Linked DNA regions of Homo sapiens: regions 2, 3 and 4 are each linked to region 1. Evidence: fine-mapped expression QTL. A gene starts in region 1. Each other region holds a variant in brackets. All regions are shown on one strand. Distances are between the middles of the regions.

Evidence for each region. PIP is the estimated chance that this variant, and not a neighbour inherited with it, causes the effect.
Region 2: its variant is the best candidate, but not a certain one, in a credible set for the expression of DPP10 in esophagus muscle (GTEx, PIP 0.60).
Region 3: its variant is the best candidate, but not a certain one, in a credible set for the expression of DPP10 in nasal epithelium (TOPMed, PIP 0.79).
Region 4: its variant is the best candidate, but not a certain one, in a credible set for the expression of DPP10 in testis (GTEx, PIP 0.52).

The regions. Positions count from the first base shown.
Region 1 is chr2:114,436,522-114,444,699 of GRCh38, reverse strand. DPP10 (dipeptidyl peptidase like 10) reads right to left here and starts at 2,059. Exons shown (of 26, transcript NM_020868.6): 1 at 1,862-2,059. The coding sequence starts at 1,921.
Region 2 is chr2:114,775,592-114,779,591 of GRCh38, reverse strand. All of the region lies in intron 1 of DPP10 (dipeptidyl peptidase like 10), which reads right to left. Among named protein-coding and RNA genes, the nearest start is that of DPP10-AS3, 56 kb to the left of the region's middle. The variant G/A (reference allele first, on the strand shown) is at 2,239.
Region 3 is chr2:115,336,335-115,340,334 of GRCh38, reverse strand. The region is part of intron 2 of DPP10 (dipeptidyl peptidase like 10); the gene reads right to left. Among named protein-coding and RNA genes, the nearest start is that of DPP10-AS1, 180 kb to the right of the region's middle. The variant G/C (reference allele first, on the strand shown) is at 1,752.
Region 4 is chr2:115,156,953-115,160,952 of GRCh38, reverse strand. The region is part of intron 1 of DPP10 (dipeptidyl peptidase like 10); the gene reads right to left. The region is part of intron 1 of DPP10-AS1 (DPP10 antisense RNA 1); the gene reads left to right. Among named protein-coding and RNA genes, the nearest start is that of DPP10-AS1, 2.4 kb to the left of the region's middle. The variant T/C (reference allele first, on the strand shown) is at 1,884.

The DNA.
Region 1 (8,178 bases):
GGTTGTCCAATTTTTATGATACTTTTCATTTCAACTCAATGGCTGCAGTTAGAAGGAAAAAACAGCATCTGCAAGATCAGCAAGATGATGTAAAACCTCTACACTAGAAACATTTTTTTTTCTGTTCCACAGTTTGTTTGTGGGCAGCCAATGCCAGAGCACTAATAAAGGAAGTGATTTGAAGTCTCTGAAAGTAGTAGTCATTTATGCTTACTCAATAAAGAAAAGGGAAAATAAATGCTTGATTCCTGTGACCTCAGACTCTTAAACAGAAAGCCACTGGTTTTGTTATAGCATTCTAGACATACTTAGCAGTAGGCAGCCAGTTTGTAACTCTATCCCACTTTAGGCTTCAATACATATTTCCCACTAGAGCTTATATATCCCAATGTAGAGTGTCATGTATTTACTATTTTGGCTTTGTTCAGTGATATGCTTAGATAATTGATGTATGTGGGAAACTGATACACAGAGGAAAACTATACCAAAAGCTCAACATTTTTTATTTCTAAACTTAGATACAGCACAGAAAATCTAATGCTGAAAAAGATTCTCATATCTGTTATTAGAGGTGGTGTAAATTATCTGAATATGAGTTCTGCATGATTTCAGTTAACTCCCTATGTTTATGTATGATGGGAATCTAATTATGCATCATTTAATATACCCTGGAAACCCCATTGCTTTTAAAAGTCACTGCTAATAAATAGAGGAACATGTTTAGTTTATGGTTTATCTATCACTGAAACACTCTGGCAAACGGTAGGTAAATTCATGAAGAAGAGACATTGTTGAAAATTATATTCCTTTTGTAATTACAGTCTATGCAATATTATTAAAGGCCTGAGACATAAACCAAAACATAATATAAATCATAAAAAGTCAGGCTTATCAGGAATAGTAGCAAAAGGTATGCACTTGTATGTTAATGAGAGATTGCAGTAACTAAAGATGCCCTGTCAGGATATCACGTTTTTTGTTTTAGTTTTTTTTTTTTTTTCATAAAAGAGTTTCAGACGAATCCATCACTTTCCCTCAAGATGCAAAATATCCACATAGATAATAATACAATTCAAGTAAATGGCAAAATATAGTAAACTTTGATTGGAAGTCTGGTCGTTTATAAGCCTTCTTGGAAATAAGAGCATCCCGAATAAAAACAAAGAGAATGGTATAAGCATGACTTGAAACTAAAACAGAAGAGTGAAATTGTGAGTTTGTTCTTTACCTTTAACCATGTGCTGTCAGAAAAGCCTCAAATTTTAAACAACACCTGCATTGAAGAGTGTCTCCAATCATCTCACTGGTTTTGAGTTACATGGTGATATAAATAAAGACATGTGATTTTATACTCTCTCTCTAGTCTTTCATCCTCTCTCACTATAATCACTTTAGTATAACCACCAGTTCAATGCTCACAATGAAGGATGAGCTTTTTTTAAAAAAGGATAAGAGATCCAAAATTCATATGACAATGAAATCCTGTTATCAGATTTGTAGTCAATTTGATGCTATTTATTTCTAGCAGTTTGCAAATTCTTCCCCAGTTCTATCAAGAAAATTGGCATGGACTGGAAACTCTTCTAGACACTCACAAAACTTTCTTCTGGAAATATACCTCTGATAGATTCTCAGTAAAAAAAAAAAAAGTCATGAAGATGAAAGAAGTGTTCAGTGGAAACTATTCTTTCCAGTCTACACACACATGCAGAGCCAAATGCTTTATTGTGACTCAACCTTCAATTCAAACTCAAATCAAGTAGGTATGTCCACTGTCAGTACCCCGATATATCAATGCCCATGTGTTAGGTAGATGAATGAAGACACATGTGCAGAAGCAGAGGGAAAAACCAGATCCTACCTTGATTGTTTTTGAGGGTTGACACTTGATGTGATGGGACACGCTGGCAGTTTGGTTCATGTTTCAGGACCCTGGACAGTGCACAATCCCAGGCGGAGTTCCAGAATGAACTAGAGATCAAGTCTCCTCTATTGGACTTCAGTAGGGGCTGCTGCTGTTGCTGCTGCCGCTGCTACTGCTGTTGCTTCTGCTGCTTCTGTTTCTGCTGCTTCCTCACTCCGGAGGCTGAAACGCTATCAGATTGGAGGAATCTGTATCTCACTTAGCCCTAAATAGAGCATTTACTTGGTTCATCAGTCTCAAAGCTCTTGGCAATATGCAATAGAAAGCCAAAAACGGTTTAAATTCACTTGCAGTGTACCTTTTCAGTATGGAGATGTGACAGCTCCACAGTACAGCCAATGATCCTGGCTCTCATTCCCCTTTCAAAGGGACGAAAACCAGAAAACATACAGAGATCAATTGCAGTCCTGCAGTTTAAAGGGGCACTCTCAACTCCTCTGTCTCTCCAGATTATAGTTTTTCCAGTGCAAAATATTTCTCTCTCTCTCTCTCCCTCTCCCCACCCCTAACCCAGTTTAAAAAAAAATCATAACATCCTCATTCTGTTACTAAATTTTATTCCTTCCTGGGTACTTCTTGCAATCAAAACACAAGTAAATGCTGTGGAAAAAAAAAAAAAAAGACTGTTGGCAGTTTCAGAATTTGGGGGTTTTATATCTATAGGTTGAAGGACTGATATTCCCTATGGATATTTTTAAAATTTAGCCATAACAGCCAGCCAAGAGACTGTCCTTTCTGTAAGGTGGCAGAAAGCTTAAGGTATATTTAAAAAGTTTTCAAATACAATAGTTATTGTAGTTTTTGGATATCGCACCAAAGCTAGACAATGTTTTTATTTTCAACCTTTATTTTTGACCATTGCTTTCCTTGAAGCCGTATTTTTTGAATGCCTGGGACAAACTGGTAGTTAGCTCATGCCAGTCTAACTCCCCAAATGGTCACCTCTCTGTCCCTAATGTCATTTTAGGCAAAATAAATTATAAATATTTGTAAATTAAGTTTTCCGAGTCACCAGTCCCCATTGTCACATCAACACTAACTAGAATAAATATATCCTGGTTGGAAATAAGATCCAGTAGTCTTGAGTAAATGCAGGACACTCTTTTCCAACTTTTGTTGCAAAGTGTTTGATGTTGAAAACCAACAGTATTTATTCATCAGAAATGTATCCTACTAATGAAATGCTAGGTTTATAAGATTGAACTAACGAACTACATTCAGGAGGCTTTTATGAACAGCCTAAAATATTACAGATAAACTTTAATGTGAAATGAAATAAATTAATGTTTGGTGAAATTAATTTATACATAATTATAAACACATATTTTCTCTTGTAAAACAGAAAAGGGATCTAAACATTCTGACAAAGTAGTCTGCACATGTTTGAGGATGGCTAAGTTTCAGAAGGTTATAGTTCTGAGTAGCAAAGTGGAGGTAAGGATGTGACAGAAGTAAGATCAGACTGTTTGCAGCCACAAAAGTTAATGGCAAGAGTATTGGAGAAATCAGGAGAATCATGGGAAAAGAGATGGAGCCAATAAGAACCAGGCAAAAGGCTGTGTGCAAGAATCTGGTGTAGCAATATCCAGGCATCATATTGAGCACAACCAGAGGCAGCCATAGGGCCAACAAATCTCATGATTTGAAGTTTACAATTCTAAATCACAAATGTGACTGGAATTTGTGGCTTATCTTGTATTTTGCTTGAATAGCATTGCTTTGAATAATTCATAAATCACAAAAAGAGTATATTAAAAATGTTTAAACATTTTGTATTCAACAATAATGAAAACAACACAGAAAATTTGCAGTATGCAGCTAAATCAATATTTAAAGGAAAATGTATATAATTAAGTACCTATACCAGAAATGCAGAAAAGCATAAAATTAATAATTAATAAGCTAATTATTCATATCAAAGAGTTGGAAAAAGAATGGCAAAATAAACTCAAATAAATTATAGGGGGGAAACAATAAAGAGAAGAGAAGAAAGTAATGAAGTAAAAAACATACAAAATACTCAATGAAAAAACCTATGAACATTTCATCAGGTGGTTTACAGTTTGATAATCTCTGAATAAATGAATGTTCTATACCAGTAGAATTGGCTTAATTCCTTTCTTAGATAGCACTTTGTACTAGGTATCTAAGAAACTTCCAAACTAAATTATCTGGGGAGCCCAGGGAGGGAGAGCAGTCCAAGAGTTCAGAGTATCCCATCCCCATCAAAGAACTGTACAGGATGGAAGGAGCCACTAGTACTTCAAGGAACCCTCTCCAGGCACATTGATAGAGACAGCATTTATATGCCTACCACAAAGAGGGTATGAGTTGCTGGATTTCTACAACTATAATCACATGAGACTTCACCCCTTTTCTACAATTTTTCAAAAAGGTTCTACCCCCACCTGGATGGCAGCAGGATCCAAGAAAGATATTGACACTACCATTTATAGGTAGGTGGCCAGAATCCACCTAAAATCTTTTCCCAAAGTTGCATTTTGAAAATAGAGAAAAATCACAGTAAGAGAAAAGAGTGCCTCGTATACACCATATGCTCCCTTTCCAGGCTCCACATTATATCAAACTCCAAGTTCCAAAGAAAAATCAAGTGTTCAGAGCAAAACATATGACCCAAATCTCATTTTGGATTTTGTTTTCCCTTTCTGTTATATTATCATTTCATGAATCAAGGAAATGAAAACCATAGTAATTTTTAAACATTTCTATTTAAAACATGTATAAATTGTTCATTATTTTGTAAAATCTGCTGTATCTTAATGTAGCCAATTGGAATGTACAACTAGAAGAAAATAGAGACCAAAGAAATTTAGACAAGTGCTAGAGAATTACAAATACCGCTTAATAAGGATAATTCATATACATTTCTTCTAATTGGGATATATTGGGCTCAATATGTTTAGAATGAAAACAGCTGCAAAATTGCATCACGGTTTGTCACATGGAAGTAGTTTTTTTTAAGGTTTAGATCTGCTGAAGAAACACTATACAGTAAATCATACTGAACTAGAAAATTTAGACAATTTAGTCCAAAGGACCAATTTCAAATGTAATCAACACTTATGATAACCGTATAAAAATATGTTGTTGTCAAACAGTTTGGGAAAAGTTAGGAGTGAGTCCCTTCCACCTTTCCCACAAAAAAAATTAAGATGGCTAACGCTTTCAGAAAATATAACCCACGATGTTCCTTGACCAGCTATCATTTGATCCGGGAAATAGAAATTTAGGATGGGGTTAATGAAAATATCCCATTAGAAAAAAAAAAAAGTCAAAGTGTCAGATGGATTCTACTACCAATTTCCGTCTCTTTGTTTCAAGTCCCATCTGCCCAAGCCCTAACTAGCTGGTCACAGTGATGACCTACAGATTGCAAAGTTAGGCAAGCCCAGGCCTCTAGTCAATAAGAATGGTATCTGAAAGGATATTGGGCTGTTTCCCTGATTTTTTTGAAATCTACTGTAGAAAATTCAAATCCCTCCATGACCATTGAGGGATCATCTCCTCATCTTAACACCTATCATCTGTGTTCTGGTCTTCTCATGACCCATCCACTGAGTCATTTGCATTTCCTACTAGAACTGGAATATGGTTTCTAATGGTTGGCTTTTTTGACTTGACCCTCACCTAACTCCTGCCTGCCACATCTTTCTTCATGATTGACCCCTGCTTGTAACACCTTCTATGCTTCAGATTGTTCCCGGGATTCACTCAAGTGGAAGTCTCTGGTCTAATTGTGGCTTCATGGTCTTCAAGAATTGATCTTTTCTGGAAACCACTTGCAGAGTCAGGATAGGCAAAGTTATGGTTCAATAACAAATAACCTCCAAGGTCGGGTGCAGTGGCCTACACTGATAATCCCAGCATTTTGAGAGGCTGAGACAAGTGGGTCACTTGAGGCCAGGAGTCTGAGAACAGCCTGGGCAACATGGCAAACCCCATCTCTACAAAAAAATACAAAAATTAGCCTGGCATGGTGGTGCACACCTGTAATCCCAGCTATTCGGGAGGCTGAGGCATGAGAGTTGCTTGAACCCCAGAGGCGGAGGTTGCAGTGAGCTGAGATTGTGCCACTGCACTACAGCCTGAATGACAGAGGGAGACTCTATCTCAAAAAATAAAAATAAATAAATAAATACATTTATAAGTAATCTCTAAATCCCAGTGGTTTAAAATAATGAAGGTTTCTTTCTCATTATACAGCATGCCAATACCTGGTTGGCACGGGAGGAAGAGCACGTGAGGCTCTTTCAATCTTAGGGATCCAGGCTGATAAAGGCCCCATCTTAATACAAGCTTTCACAATCAACAAGGCAGAAGGAAAGAAACATGAAAAATCATGCTCTTATTTAAAGGCTTATGCCCAGCAAAGACACAAAACACTTCTACTTACATTCCATTGGCTAAAGCCACTCTCATGGCTACATTCAAGTTTAGGTAACAAGAAAGTGACGTGCAGCATGCACCCAAGTAGCAGTAAAATCAGAATAGCATTCTGAGTAACCCTAATGATAGCCATAACCCTACTGCTGCTTATTTTTCATATGCAGAGATATATGCCTATCTCTGCCATCCAACCTTAAGATGCCAACATGCTTATATTTAATGGTCCATAGACTGTGACAAGTTAATTTCAAAGCTACTTCAGGTAAATATAAGACAGAACTTCTTTATCCTATGTGTCTTGTTATCAACAGGGCTTTCCTAATATCTTTTCCTGAGTTATTCAGGAGTAGGATACAGACCCATAATAACACTTGCATATGGGGAAATACCAGAGTTGAATGTGAGCTATGAGGATTTCCCCTGCTGGGCACATATAGCTCTGCAAAGGCCAGAGCCATTGGTAGGAGGCAGAGCAGGCAGGCCTGACTACATAAGAGTGCATACTTTTAACTATTCTGCTATACGAATAAAAAAAGTTATTTTATCCTACTAACCGTTGTAACTGTACTAATACAACAAAAAGTAAAACTCACATTTTCTTATTCTTTCAGTAGTAATCACTTGAAGGACTTTCTGAAAAAAAAGCAAATATAGTATTATGAATTCTCAAGTAGCAATAAAATGTAAGTTTAATGAGAAAAAGAACACAAATTTCTAAACTCGCTTTTACATTAGATGATCAACTACTGTGTGATTCACTGTCTGAAAGCCACCTCTCCAGACTTATGTCCCATAATATTCCAACCAAACACACAAACACATAGAAAGTGGGAAGTGCTCGCTCTACATTTTCAATTTATCGTCCAAATTAATTAATGAAGTAGTTTATTGTACTCTTTCTCTCATGAGGTATTGCCTAAAACCACATAGAACGTGAGAGCAGGGATTAGAATCAACAAATAAGTGAAGTTATTGACTAGCCTATGCCAGTCCAGCTTTAGAGCTGGCTGCCATTCCCGTATCCAATAAGAACTGACCTACACTCATTGACAAGTGTGAATTGCCCCTCTTTGCATCTCCCGTTACTGGATTTGGCTTCCTGATTTTTCCACTATTCATCTCTTGATCATCACCACAAACTTTTCAAACTGTCCTCTTAGCTGATCCTTGACTATAATTTGCTCTTATCCTGGAGGCTGCCTGCTTCCAAGTACACTGGATATATAGTCTGTATGATGCAGACCAACCTCAGGGTGACCGACTGTCACAGATCCAGTTGACTGACATTCCTGACAGGTTCCACTCCCTGCTGCTTGCTAACCAGAACCAAACACAAACATCTCAAAAATTATCAGTTGCCCCAAGTGGAGTTCCACATCCATAAAAAAGCAAAACATTATCTCTGCTACTGTCATTGTCTTACACAGTTCTAATGGTGACATTTATGTTTTCTGGAATAATTCTCTTCTGCAAAAACTTCCAGCTGAAAATGTGATCCAAATCCTAAATTTATAAAACACTAAAATAGATAGCCATGATTTCCTCATAAGGGATTTTTGGAGCTTTCCTCACCCTCAGTTCTCCAGTTGCAAATAACTCAGCAAACAAGACCCCCAAAAGTGCCTTAGAAATGTTCAGTTCTAGATACAGATGCTTTCATGAACACACAGAAATAAACACTGGAGGTAACTCTTTATGTAAGCATAACAATCTGCTCCACAATCCCTGACAAATGCCTTCAATAAATTTTCTCTATGGCCAAAGTCATAAATCACTGTGAAGACAGAATGCACACATAAAATCCATTGCACTATAGTTCCCCAGACATCAGGGACAGACTACTTCAT
Region 2 (4,000 bases), 340 kb before region 1:
GAAAAAGTCCTCAGCGTAAACTGATATCAGCTTAGACCATATCAAAATTAGCAGCTTGTATGTAAGAAGTCAATCATTACATTTTATAAGATATGACGGGAATAGGTCCTCTGAAAAATCAGGAGTCCTCTGCTACCCTAGATATGAGATAACTTTGATCAGAGGTGGTTTAGGACCTTGGGTAGCTCTCAGGGAGCTGGCTCTTGTTCTGTTAATAATAAAAGCCATACTGAACAAACATATACCTATGTTTATATTGATGTCTATATGCAGACAGAAAATCTCAGAAGAGTCTGGTTGCCTGTTTTTTCCTCATAGTTAGCTTAATCTTTATGAAACACAAACCTCTTCGTTCAGATGAAGAGCATTTAGTGTCCACATCCACATCCAGGAGAGAAAGCCAGGTTATTCTGTGTAGTCTGGAAGTTTCACAGGGGTATACACTGATGAGAAGGCCTGACTGCAGCAGAGGAACTCTGTCTGCTGCAACACGGGATTACTCAGGCCCCAGAGGTACCAACTCCACTGGACCAAAAATAGAGCCCAGGCATGTAAAGCTTAAGACCATGAACTCTCAAGACAGCTGCTTTCTGGCATTGAATTAACTAGGGTGCTACTAATTTTTACAGTAACCATAAAGGGGAGAATAGATTATACATTATTTTTTATAACTAACATGGGATTGTGACACCATTAAGTTGCGCTTTGTCTTTCGGTCAATTAAATTCATAATTTATTGTAATATGCTAGAACCCTATGGCAGAGGCTGGCAAGACTCATCAAATCCATTTTATCTTCCATCAGAGCATATAGGTGGACTACATTTTCTGGCTTCCTTTGCAATTAGGTGCAGTCATGCGACCGATTTTAAACCAGTAGGATTTTTCATGGAAGTGGTATATACCACTTCCAGGCCTGGTTCATGTACTTTCCTTGCAAGCTTCCATGATTTCTTTACTATTTTATCTGCCGGTCAGATTAACGGAGTCAGTGGTACACTCCAAGACTCTAGACTTTAACAAAGCCATTAGATGGATGAAGCCTGGAACTCTAAATAATTGCGTGAAAAAGAGACAACCTTCCACCCAAGCAAACTTAAGTTTACTGTAACATAAATAAGAAATAAATATTTATGTTGGTAAGTAACTAAAATGTGAAGCTATTATAGAAATTAGCCACTGTGGCTAACGTTATAGGACTAATAGATATTTTTGAATATGATACATATGATCAAATCACATTTATATGAAAGTGCAGGTCTCGGCTATGAGCCATGACACTTGAGTTTTAATAAGCCAAATGTTTTGCATATATAATATACTTTAGTAACTTGCATTTTGAAATAACCTTCTTGACCCAGAGAGTAAGACTCAGTCTATCTGTAAGTGTCATCCCTTAATATTGCTTAAAGATGATAATGATTAGGGTAATGAATGATAATGATGATGCTAATACCTATAATAACATTTCATTTATAGCCCTTCTTAGTAATGTATTTATTTAATTGTCTCACTCTTTCTTGGACATGTTTAAGATGATTGCTATTATTCCCATTTTAAAGGTCTTGAAACTGAAATCCAGAATGTCAGCTAACTAATGAAAGACACGACAAATTCAAATTTAGATCTTCAGATTATTGACCCTAAAGTCCATGCTTTACCACTACCCTACAATTATTTAAGCAGAACCTGTCATAAAATTGCGGATATGAGTCTAACTTAAAGAACAGTGAACTCTTTGACTATGTAACTTCATAGAACTTACTATAAAGCATCTTGGTTCTGCGGCTCAAAGGATTTCTGTTTAATGATGTCATTACCATATAGCCAGGACATAACACTGCATTTAAGAGATGTAAAGTAGTCATTTAAACATTTACTGCTTTGGGCTTCATATCTATTACTGATAGAAGCTTTGAGATGAGGATTTAAATACTACTTTATATTTATTTCTTAAGCTCAGCCACAAAGCATTTTCACACGAGACATTCAGCAACTCTGAAAGGGCTACTTCTTCCCAGCCATTTGCATTTGGTCAAACTTCCTTCTTTCCTTGCTGTTTATGACTGTAACAAGTGGCATAATATGAAGGACTGAAATAGGGAGGTTGCCAACTTTTCAAAACTTTTTCTGGAAGAAATATAATTTAGTAGGAATAATATATCCAAAAGTAATACTCAAAAAAGGGCCCTGAAAACCCTCTTCAGAAATGTATGTGGGTAATATATTTCTAAGGATT[G/A]TGATTTGTACAGTGCAAAATCCATGGGCAGTTCAAAAAAGTTGGACCAGGAAGAAAGGAAGCCATTTCCAGCACAAGACAGTGTTTCCTAGGCTGCAGAATTATAAGGTTTGAATGTGACTTGTTGGTCTTCCTGTACTCTTTTCTTATTCTAAGAAGAGTTTCAAAAATAAATGAGAATATGGTTATAAAAAACAATAAAATATACCCATTCTCAAAGAGTACATTTCATTTACTTCTGAATAAAAGTCTTAACATATGTAAAGCCTGTATTAACTGCTTTTAGTCCAATAATTGCAACTATACACTATATAATGTATATATTATATAGTTATGTACTACATGGTTTATAAAACATTTTCATATATCTTTTTTATTTTTGAAAAAGTATGTTTGGCAGAAATTCTTATGCCTTCTTTTTTTTAATTATGAGAACACTGATCCTTAGAAAGTCTTTTTGGCTACCATTATCTTCTCTAATAATTTGATTTCCTTTTCAAAACTCACACTGCTCAGAGAGGTGTCTCCACTCATCCCCTTTTCCAATACTCATCAATTCAATACTCATCAATTCTTATAATCTGCACTAACTTTATTTAATTTAAATCACTACAACTTGAATATGTGACTTTAAAAATTACTCTAATGTAATTTATCCAACAAATTTTTTGATCTTTTTTTAATGTAGTGTTTGTCAGCTCCCACCATAGATGACTTCAAGCTGCCAAAAATTTAACAAATGGCTCAAAAAATGTTGTACATTTAACAATATTTCTTTTGAGCCTATAAAAGCCAAATTCATCACACTACTGGCAGTGTTCACTCAGATCTAGCGCTAGCTCCTAAGGAGCTTATGGCCTGATAACGGAGATTGCATTCAGTAGAGAAAAGCTAGGAGTCTATTTTCTTTGACAAGGTCTTGGAAGCTCTGGAACCTTAGGTATGAATGTAACTGTTTTTTCCTTCTACATAAGCAGCAAAGGTCATTCAAGCAGAGGAGATAGTGTGTTCAAAGGCATGGATGCATGGAATGCCATGGCATCATTCTATATCCAATGTGCAGTGGGAAGGGCTGTCAGAAAAGAGAGTTCAGCAGGCCTCAGATCATGGAGGTTTGTTTGTGTTCTAATTGTTGTTCAATTGTTCACTCAATTGGATCAACTACATGACAACTAAGATGTATCTGCAGCTAATTTTACCTGTAACACTTTGTCTCTTTATTTTTATCTAGAGCTATATCTAAAAATCAGTGTATTTTCCCATCATATCTTCAAAACTCATTTTGTTTTTCACCATCTCTGGGAAGACATTCTTGACTTCTTCCATATTAACTCCTGCTATCTGCATCCAAGCACAGTGAACCTCCTCTGCTTCTGGGTCCTTCCCATGTGCCTCCATGAATGTATTACCAACATTGTAAGTATATTTGTTTAGATGTCTCTCTCTGTCACCCAAAGTGATAGTTCCTTGAGACGTAGGAGTGTCTTTTATTGTTTGTATTGCCAGAGGCTTGAACAGTACATGATTCATTGGAGATACTCAAGATATATTTATGCATTGTGTTGAATTAATAAGACACTTCTTGACTATAATTCAAAAGAATGAACAAAGAGTGGTGACATTCTAATTGTTGGGAATGTGAATGTTTCCTGACTCACCTTTCTGAAGCTGCTGCCATATACTAAGAAGTAATGAGTACAAAGAGTTCATGCTAACATTGCTTAGAGAATGCAAACTTTCTAGGCTTCCTCAGCCTGCTAGA
Region 3 (4,000 bases), 900 kb before region 1:
AAAGTATATATAGTTTGGTATTGTGAACAGAATATTTCCCATTCCCATTCTAAATTATTTTTATACCTATAAGATTAATGATTACACCATATCACATTTTCTTAAACATTTCAATTATGAGTTTTTATTTTCTACATATTAAATTATAGCATCTGTAAACATATTACTTTTTTCTTTCTTTTCCAAATTTTAAGCAACTAATTATACTATGTATGCATTTGCTTCCCAGGTAATTGAAGATTCATATGAAGTTGCAAGAAATATTACAGAGAAAGTCTGTGTACTCTTCATTCAGTTTCTCTCAATGACAAGTAACATCCTGCATAATAATATCACGAAAAGAAACTGACATTGATATACTCCATCAACCTTACTCAGATTTCTGCAGTTTTACATGTATTCATTTATTCACGTGCATTCTTGCGTGTTTAGTTCTACGCAACTGCATCACAGGTGACCAGCACCACAGTCAAGAACAGTTCCATCACTAGGATCTCTTCTGCCACTCTTTCATTAACAGTCCCCCACCCAATCCCTTGGCAACCAACCACTACTCTGTTCTCCATTTTTAAAATTTTGTAATTTTAAGAATGCTATATAATCACAATCATACCATACCTAAGCTTTTGGACTGGCTTTTATCACTCAGAATAATTCCCTTGAGATCCATTCAAGTTGTTGAATGTATAAATAATCTATCACTTTTGATGGCTGAGTAATATTCCAGGGTATTGAGAGACCATTCTTTAACTCTTCACTCATTGAAGAACATTTGAGTTATTGTTATTTCTGGTTTGGGGATATTAAAAATAAAGTTACTATAAACATTTTTTTATAGATTTTTGTACAAACATACATTTTCTTTTCTCCAAGATAAATGCCCAAATATGCAGTTGCTGGGTCAAATGTAAACACATTACAGTTTTATTTAAAAATTCCATATGCTTTTTTACAGTAGTTTTACCATTTTACATTCTCACCAGCAATGTATAAATGATCCAGTTTCTCTGCATCTTCGGCAGCATTTGATGTCATTAAAAAAAAATGGCTATTCTTATATACGTGTAGTGATATCCCCTTGTGGTTTAATTTGCATTTCTCTAGTAGCTAATGAGGTTGAACATCATTTAATGTGCTTATTTATGATTCCCATATAGTCTTCAGTGAAATATCTGTTCATGTCATTCGCCCACTTTCTAACTGAATTATTTCGTTGGTGTGTTTGTTTAATGCTGCATTTGATGAGTTCTTCGTCTATTCTAAATACAAATGCTTTGTCAGATACGTGAATTTCAAATATTTCCCTCCAGTCTGTAAGTTGTCTTTTCACCCTCTTTAGAAAATGTTTTGTGGAGAAAAAGGTATCAATATTTATGAGATCCAGGTAATCAATTTTTCCTTTTATGAATCGTGCTTTTGCTGTCAAGTCTAACAATGTTTCACCTATTTCTTGGTCTTGAAACTTTCTCCTATGGCTTTTTCCTAAAAAATGTTATAGTTTTATTTCACATATTCCTCCCTGCTCTATTTTGAGTTACTTTTTGTATATCTTCACACATGGCATGAGGCTTAATATGAAGTTTTGTTTGTCTGCTGGTTTATTTTGTTTTGTGTCTATGGATGACTAATTGTTCCAACTTCATTTTTGAAAAGCATTTGTTTAATTCTATTGAATTATTTCATTAGCTTGAATGTGAAAAATGATACTGAGCTGGGCAAGGTGGCTCATGTCTATAATCCCAGCTGCTTGG[G/C]AGGCTGAGGCAGGAGGATCATTTGAGTTGAGGAGTTAGTTCAAGGTTAGAGTGAGCTATGACTGTGCCACTGCGCCACTTCACTCCAGCCTGGGCAAGAGAGTGAGGCCTAATCCCTAAAACTAAAAAAAATTAATTTATTTTAAAAAAATGTTGAATGATCATAGTGTCAGTGACATTGCTTTTTTTCCATTATGAAATAATCATTATTTCTTTCCAGACTCTTTTATATAAACATATTTTTCTCCTTTAACACATTGATATAAAAATTACATAAATACAATCTCCTGTTTACAACCACCCGATATGTCTGTAACAAAATCCAACCAAGCACGTTGAATTCTTATTTTTATACTATTAGATTAATATGTTAAACTTTTATTTAAATGTTTACATCTAGGTTAACAGACAAAGTTACACAGTCCTTTGTTTTCCATTCTGTATTATATTGATCACTTGGCACATTAATACATTTATTCAATATTTTTGAAGTTGTGTTTATTTTCTGTGCTCTGGAATAGTTTAATAATTTTAATAATATTTTTTAACTCCAATTGCCCCTGGAACTTATTCTAAAACCAACCCTTCAAAGCAATTCAAATAACTATAAATAAATCTTCTGTTTAAACAATAATGAGAAGGAGATATTATGTAATTTAATAATTAATGTATTTGGCTTTATTCAATACTGAGAAAACTATATACTTCATTCATTTCTTTGTTTTTTTCTTCTTCTGTGTTGCTTTCTTTGTTCCTTTCCTTAAATTTTCCTTAGCTGCCTACCCTGAGGTCTCTTGAATTTTTCATTCCTAGAATAAAGACTCCTTCCTTATACACATAATGAATAATTAAGCTTCTCTTTTAATAGCCTCCAAGGCTAACTTCTATCCTCTATCTTTTTTTTTTTTTTTTTTTTTTTTTTATGAGCAGCCTCCCCCTGTCTCATTGTAATCCTTCGGGATGTTCATTCCTTGCAACCAATCCTCTCTTTTCTGAATGTCCCCCAAACCCTACTGGGTATTAGTATCCTCATTTCACAGAGAAACAGGCTCGGCAATGTTGACAAAGACCACGTAACTAGTAATTGGCAGAGCTGAAACTTGAACCTGCATCTCTCTGACTTTAGGTTTTCTTCATTAAGCTATACTATCTCCCAAAAATAAGTTTTCTTTCCTTTTCTCTTTAATAATGTATTAATAGCATCTTTTCACAAGACAATATACAATCTTACAAAAATATTTTAGGAATATTCTTATTGCCTTTTAGCCACTAGAACCCTTCTTCCAACTGAAATCCAACTCCTTAGTGTAAGCCCCTCTGGAGCTTATTAGCATCCCATTCTGCCTCAACTTGCCCAGGAAGATAATAGCATATCCTCTTTTCTCAAAGAGAGAAATGTCACAGCATTCACTAAAATGTAGGAATTTTTTTTTTTTTTTTGCTTTCTTCAAGACACTTGTCTACAATATGTCTTAAATTCCAAGCTTACCCTCTGCTCATTGTTACAGGCAATTTATAGTTACAACGGAACTCAGTCATCAACAAACATTTATTACTCACATTGCAACGTAATTTAGCAGGAACTTAATTTATGTTAGAATCAGACCCAGGGAGAATCACCTAGAGAAATCTTACTATTTGATACATTTAAATAATTTTCTCTTTATTTTTACCTAGCAAACAGAGAAACCTGGATATCAATCATTCATCTCAATCACTCACACTGAACAACGAGAAGGTGGCTCAGAAAAAAATATTAGATTGTAAATCATTTTGAGACACTCTTTCAAAATATTATTAATTTTTATTAATCTTTAGAGAAAGAAATTCTAAAATCAATACTTAGTCCCTAATGTAAAGAAAATATTGCTAAAATTTAATATTCACCTCTCATAGGTTGTTCTCCTTACTAGCAAGTTACTTGAGAATATATCTCTAGTGATTCTGTAACAAAATATAAGGCACAATTATATATATATATATAGAGAGAGAGAGAGAGACAGAGAGAGAGAGAGAGAGAGAGAGTACACATGTATGAAAGTCTGAAAACCTACTATATTTTAATAGTTGCTATTAAAAGTGTAAATATTTGTTAACCCTATCAGATACTATAATTATGAATAGGGACACAAAAATCCAAATAAATATATGGTTTAACAATTCACAAGTATTTAGAGACCTGGAAACAGAATCCTTATTGGTTAAATAGTTACAAGGTATTGTAGAATCTTAAGTAAAAAGTTCAGCTT
Region 4 (4,000 bases), 720 kb before region 1:
AAAGTAGGTTTACCGAGCACCTACCACGTGCCAAACACACTGTGAGGCTCAGAGAGAGGGTCGCAGGGGAGAGAAACTAAACAACACGGCAAACCTACCAAATCCCCTGGCTGCAGGGAGCTTACGTTGTGTGGGAATTGGGAGCCCGGAGCCTGGATACAAATCAATGAGTCAATGTAGCTCTTAGGAAGTTGAATTACCGCGGATAGACAAAGTCCACAGTTCATCCAGATGCACTAGTGCACGTGGCTTTCCCTAGGGCGCCTAAAGCCTGTGGACCACAAACAGCCTCCAAGTCTCAGGCACAGGTTGTGGAAGATTGCTTACCGGAGAAATGGCAGGAGTGAGTTGAATATTTAGGTGTTCATGTATTCAGCACAAGACAGTTCCAGCAGAGAGGACAGAGAATATGGGGCAGTGGGGTGGCAGTGAGTTGGGCTTTATTGGCTAAGGACTGGCTCCCTGCTCTGAGCCACTCAGTCCATTAATTAGTCACTTCTTAACTGAAAGACTTTTGTAGAATGGTAGGAGCTGTCCTCTTGCCTTAGTAGTTTCTAAAACACGAATTATAATGTTGTCCTAAATATTAATTGTAACGATACTTCCTATAAAGTATGTATTTTAAAATAAATATATCAGTAATCACCAGCAGAAAGATAGAATTAGAGGTGAGTGGAGATCTTGTTTTTCAAAAATATGTATTCCAGTGCATATTGTGAAAGACCTATTTATTCTGTTTCAGGAGAAATAACTTTTTGCTAGGAATAACTTTGCAAGTTGCAAAAGCATAAAGCAAATATATATTTTTAATGAAACATTAGTGTAATAGCTATTGGGCAGCTTATCCAGTAATTATGACAATATAGATATTCCCTCACATGTAATTCTTTTGGAGGGAGGGCATCTGCATTATTCAGAAAATGTTCGCATTTTTATATTTTGCTCTTCTGTTGATTATTTGAGTATATTCATCCTTTCATTGTGTTTCCATTTCGGACAATCTGCTTGAGTTGAAGGAATTTACTTTATTACAGAGATATCTGTCACACAGGATAAGTACATGCTGGAGGGAGATATCCTTTTATATAAGATTACTTATTTGATTGAGTTCAACTGTTGAATTTGCATCTGTGTTCTGAATTCAGTATAAAATCCACTTCATTACAAATAAAGACAAACATTATTATATGTTTCATGTATTGTGGGGGTCTGTGTGTGTATGTGTGCGTGAATTTTTTTATTTATAAAATGCTTCTTTGATTTAAGTATTTGTCCTTGGGGATGGGTTGTTATTTTGTCAAGCTAAGAACATTTTTAGCTGTTGAGATCTGGGTTAAGGGCACTGATTAAAACTTAATCACATGTAAACGGATTTTCCCAATTTAAACACTGTTTTTATTTTTTTAATGTATTGCACTTGAATTACAGTGTAAGATGTTCTACTTCATTTTCAACTTAATTTCTTACTGAAGAAAAAATTCTAACGTCCAAACAAGAAATGTTGGAATACCTTACACCTTAGAAGGGAGTATTTGCAGTTCTGTTTTGTATGGTTTCTAATGATGTTATTTTTAAAGAAACATTCTCCTGCCTCAGCCTCCCAAGTAGCTGGGACTACAGGCGCGCGCCACCACACCAAGCTAATTTTTTGCATTTTTAGTGGAGACGGGGTTTCACCGTGTTAGCCGGCATTGTCTCGATCTCCTGACCTAGTTATCCGCCCACCCCGGCCTCCCAGAGTGCTGGGATTACAGACATGAGCCACCATGCCATGCCACTTCCACCTTTTTACCTGGTAAAATTAAAATGTTTAGACCAGGTGCCCATTAAGATATTCTCATTCTCTAAGTTTTTGTGATGATATGTTGATGTTATAAATCAAA[T/C]GCCTATCTTCTGAATGAAAAATTATTTGTATATGTTTAAATTTTAGTGGGAGAGTCAATTAAGTACTTAGAAATTAAAAAAAAAAAACTCAATAGATAAGTTAATTACCTTGCAAAAGGCCCTTACCATCCACCATATTTTCCAGTGCTCTCTAGTTTTACATGCACATAGTCACAATTTTGTCTTGATAATGTTTAAATCTGAAATTTAAAATGTATTTACAAAGCATAACTTCTGAATACAAAAATCTATTTAAAGAGAGTTTTTTAAAAAAAAGATTCACAGAGTATTTTGAATACTTTTTCATGTATTATCTTTGATCAGCTAATTCATGGACAAGCATACATTTTATAACATTCATATAACAGTAAAGGAAGTTTTTCTACACTTTTCATGGGAAGAAATCAGACTCTCATAACTGAAAAGGAACTGGAGAGATCACCTAGCAAAATTCCTTCTATTTTGGGTTATAAATATCTAAACTTTACAACACATGGCCATTTTATTCAGGAAGATTTCCTAGAATTCAAACTCCATCACTTCTTTCTGAAAATGGATTACCTCAAATCCTAGTTTTGGGTTCACATGTAGACAGAACTCACAATGCTGCTTTCTCAATATATTCATTTGGGTTTCTGAAGCCATTCAAAAACTTCCTCACATACAACATTGTGAATATCTACAATGTCTTTCTTTCTCTTGCTGTTTTACCCTTTAAAAACAGGAAGTCAATGCAGTACATCTCTCTTTACCTAGAAATATTAAGGTAGATAATTGAGGACGGGTTATGAAATTTAGATAATAATTGGATTAATTGAAGATTATCGTTATAGTGTTTTGGTATCTGTGGCAAAATTAGGTTGTTCTATACATACATAGGTCATCTATGCAGTATTTAATCCTCCACCTCAAATAGCAGACAAAGGACCAAAGAACCAAAATTTACTCTAAAAACAACCAAGTAAGAAATAAGGTCTAGCTAACAGCTGATATGTCAGAAAGACAAATGTCCCTTGAGATTTTCTGAAGTAGGATACCCTTTAGAGACAAACTCTTCAGTTTCAGATAAATTAGACAAGGCAAACAGTACTCCACAAGCAGCTAGTTGCTAGAAACCCTCACTGCATTTTCCTTCTCTTTGCTCCCCTTCCTGAGGTAAATCTGCAGTGTCATGTAAAGACCACCTTGATGGGGATTTCCCTAGCATTAGCCAGTCCTCTGTTGAGTGTCTATAATGAGCACAGCATCAAGAAGACAGAGTTCACGAGCTGTGTCTTCAGAGACTTGGCCTGAAATATGCCCAATTAGCTCTTTGCAGATAAAGAAATAGCTTTAGTTCATATCTTCTGCTATCATTTGGTTTCGATTTATGAATGACCTCTACTCACCTCAATCGGGTTTTGAATTCCCCAAAATGCACATCATGTCCCTGGACAGAAAACCAGTATGCTGAGCAATCCTCATAAACAAGCTACATTTTAGAAGCTCTAACCAGTAAACTATAACAGGAATTTACTTTTAAAGTAAAAAAGAAGAAAGAAGTAAAGGCACTATATATATAAGTGATACTCATGTATACTATTCATTCTGTTTTGAGTTTCTTTCAGTATCAGTTAACTAAAGTTTTTGTCAGTCTCTGTCTTTGACAGGAAGACTTTCCTGTTATAAAAATTCATAGCCCAATTATGATCTCTGGTGGAAGCAGACAGAGTTGCAATATCCTGAGAGTCATTCTTGCTCTCTGGAGACCTGAAGATATTGAACAAATTGCCCATGCCTACTGAGGTCCAGTGTTGTCAAATCTCTCTTTTTTTTTTTTTTTTTGCTATATTTAAAACCTCACATCTTCCTTTCACCCCACCGCCCTTCTGTGTCATATATACAGGAATTAAGACAGTAAAACAATGCAGATTATTTTACCGTGTATGCTTTTCTCTGTATACATGTAGCTGAATTGTAACACCAAAACAACTTGAGAACGTGAGAAATTTACCTGCTGTTGTCATGTTTACCCACTAGATGCCCAACAAGGGATGTGTGTTTCTTTATTTTGCTCTTTATTTTTTAAGAGTTGTCATTTAATGAATTGGTTATGTCGGCACAGTAAAAAAGAAAA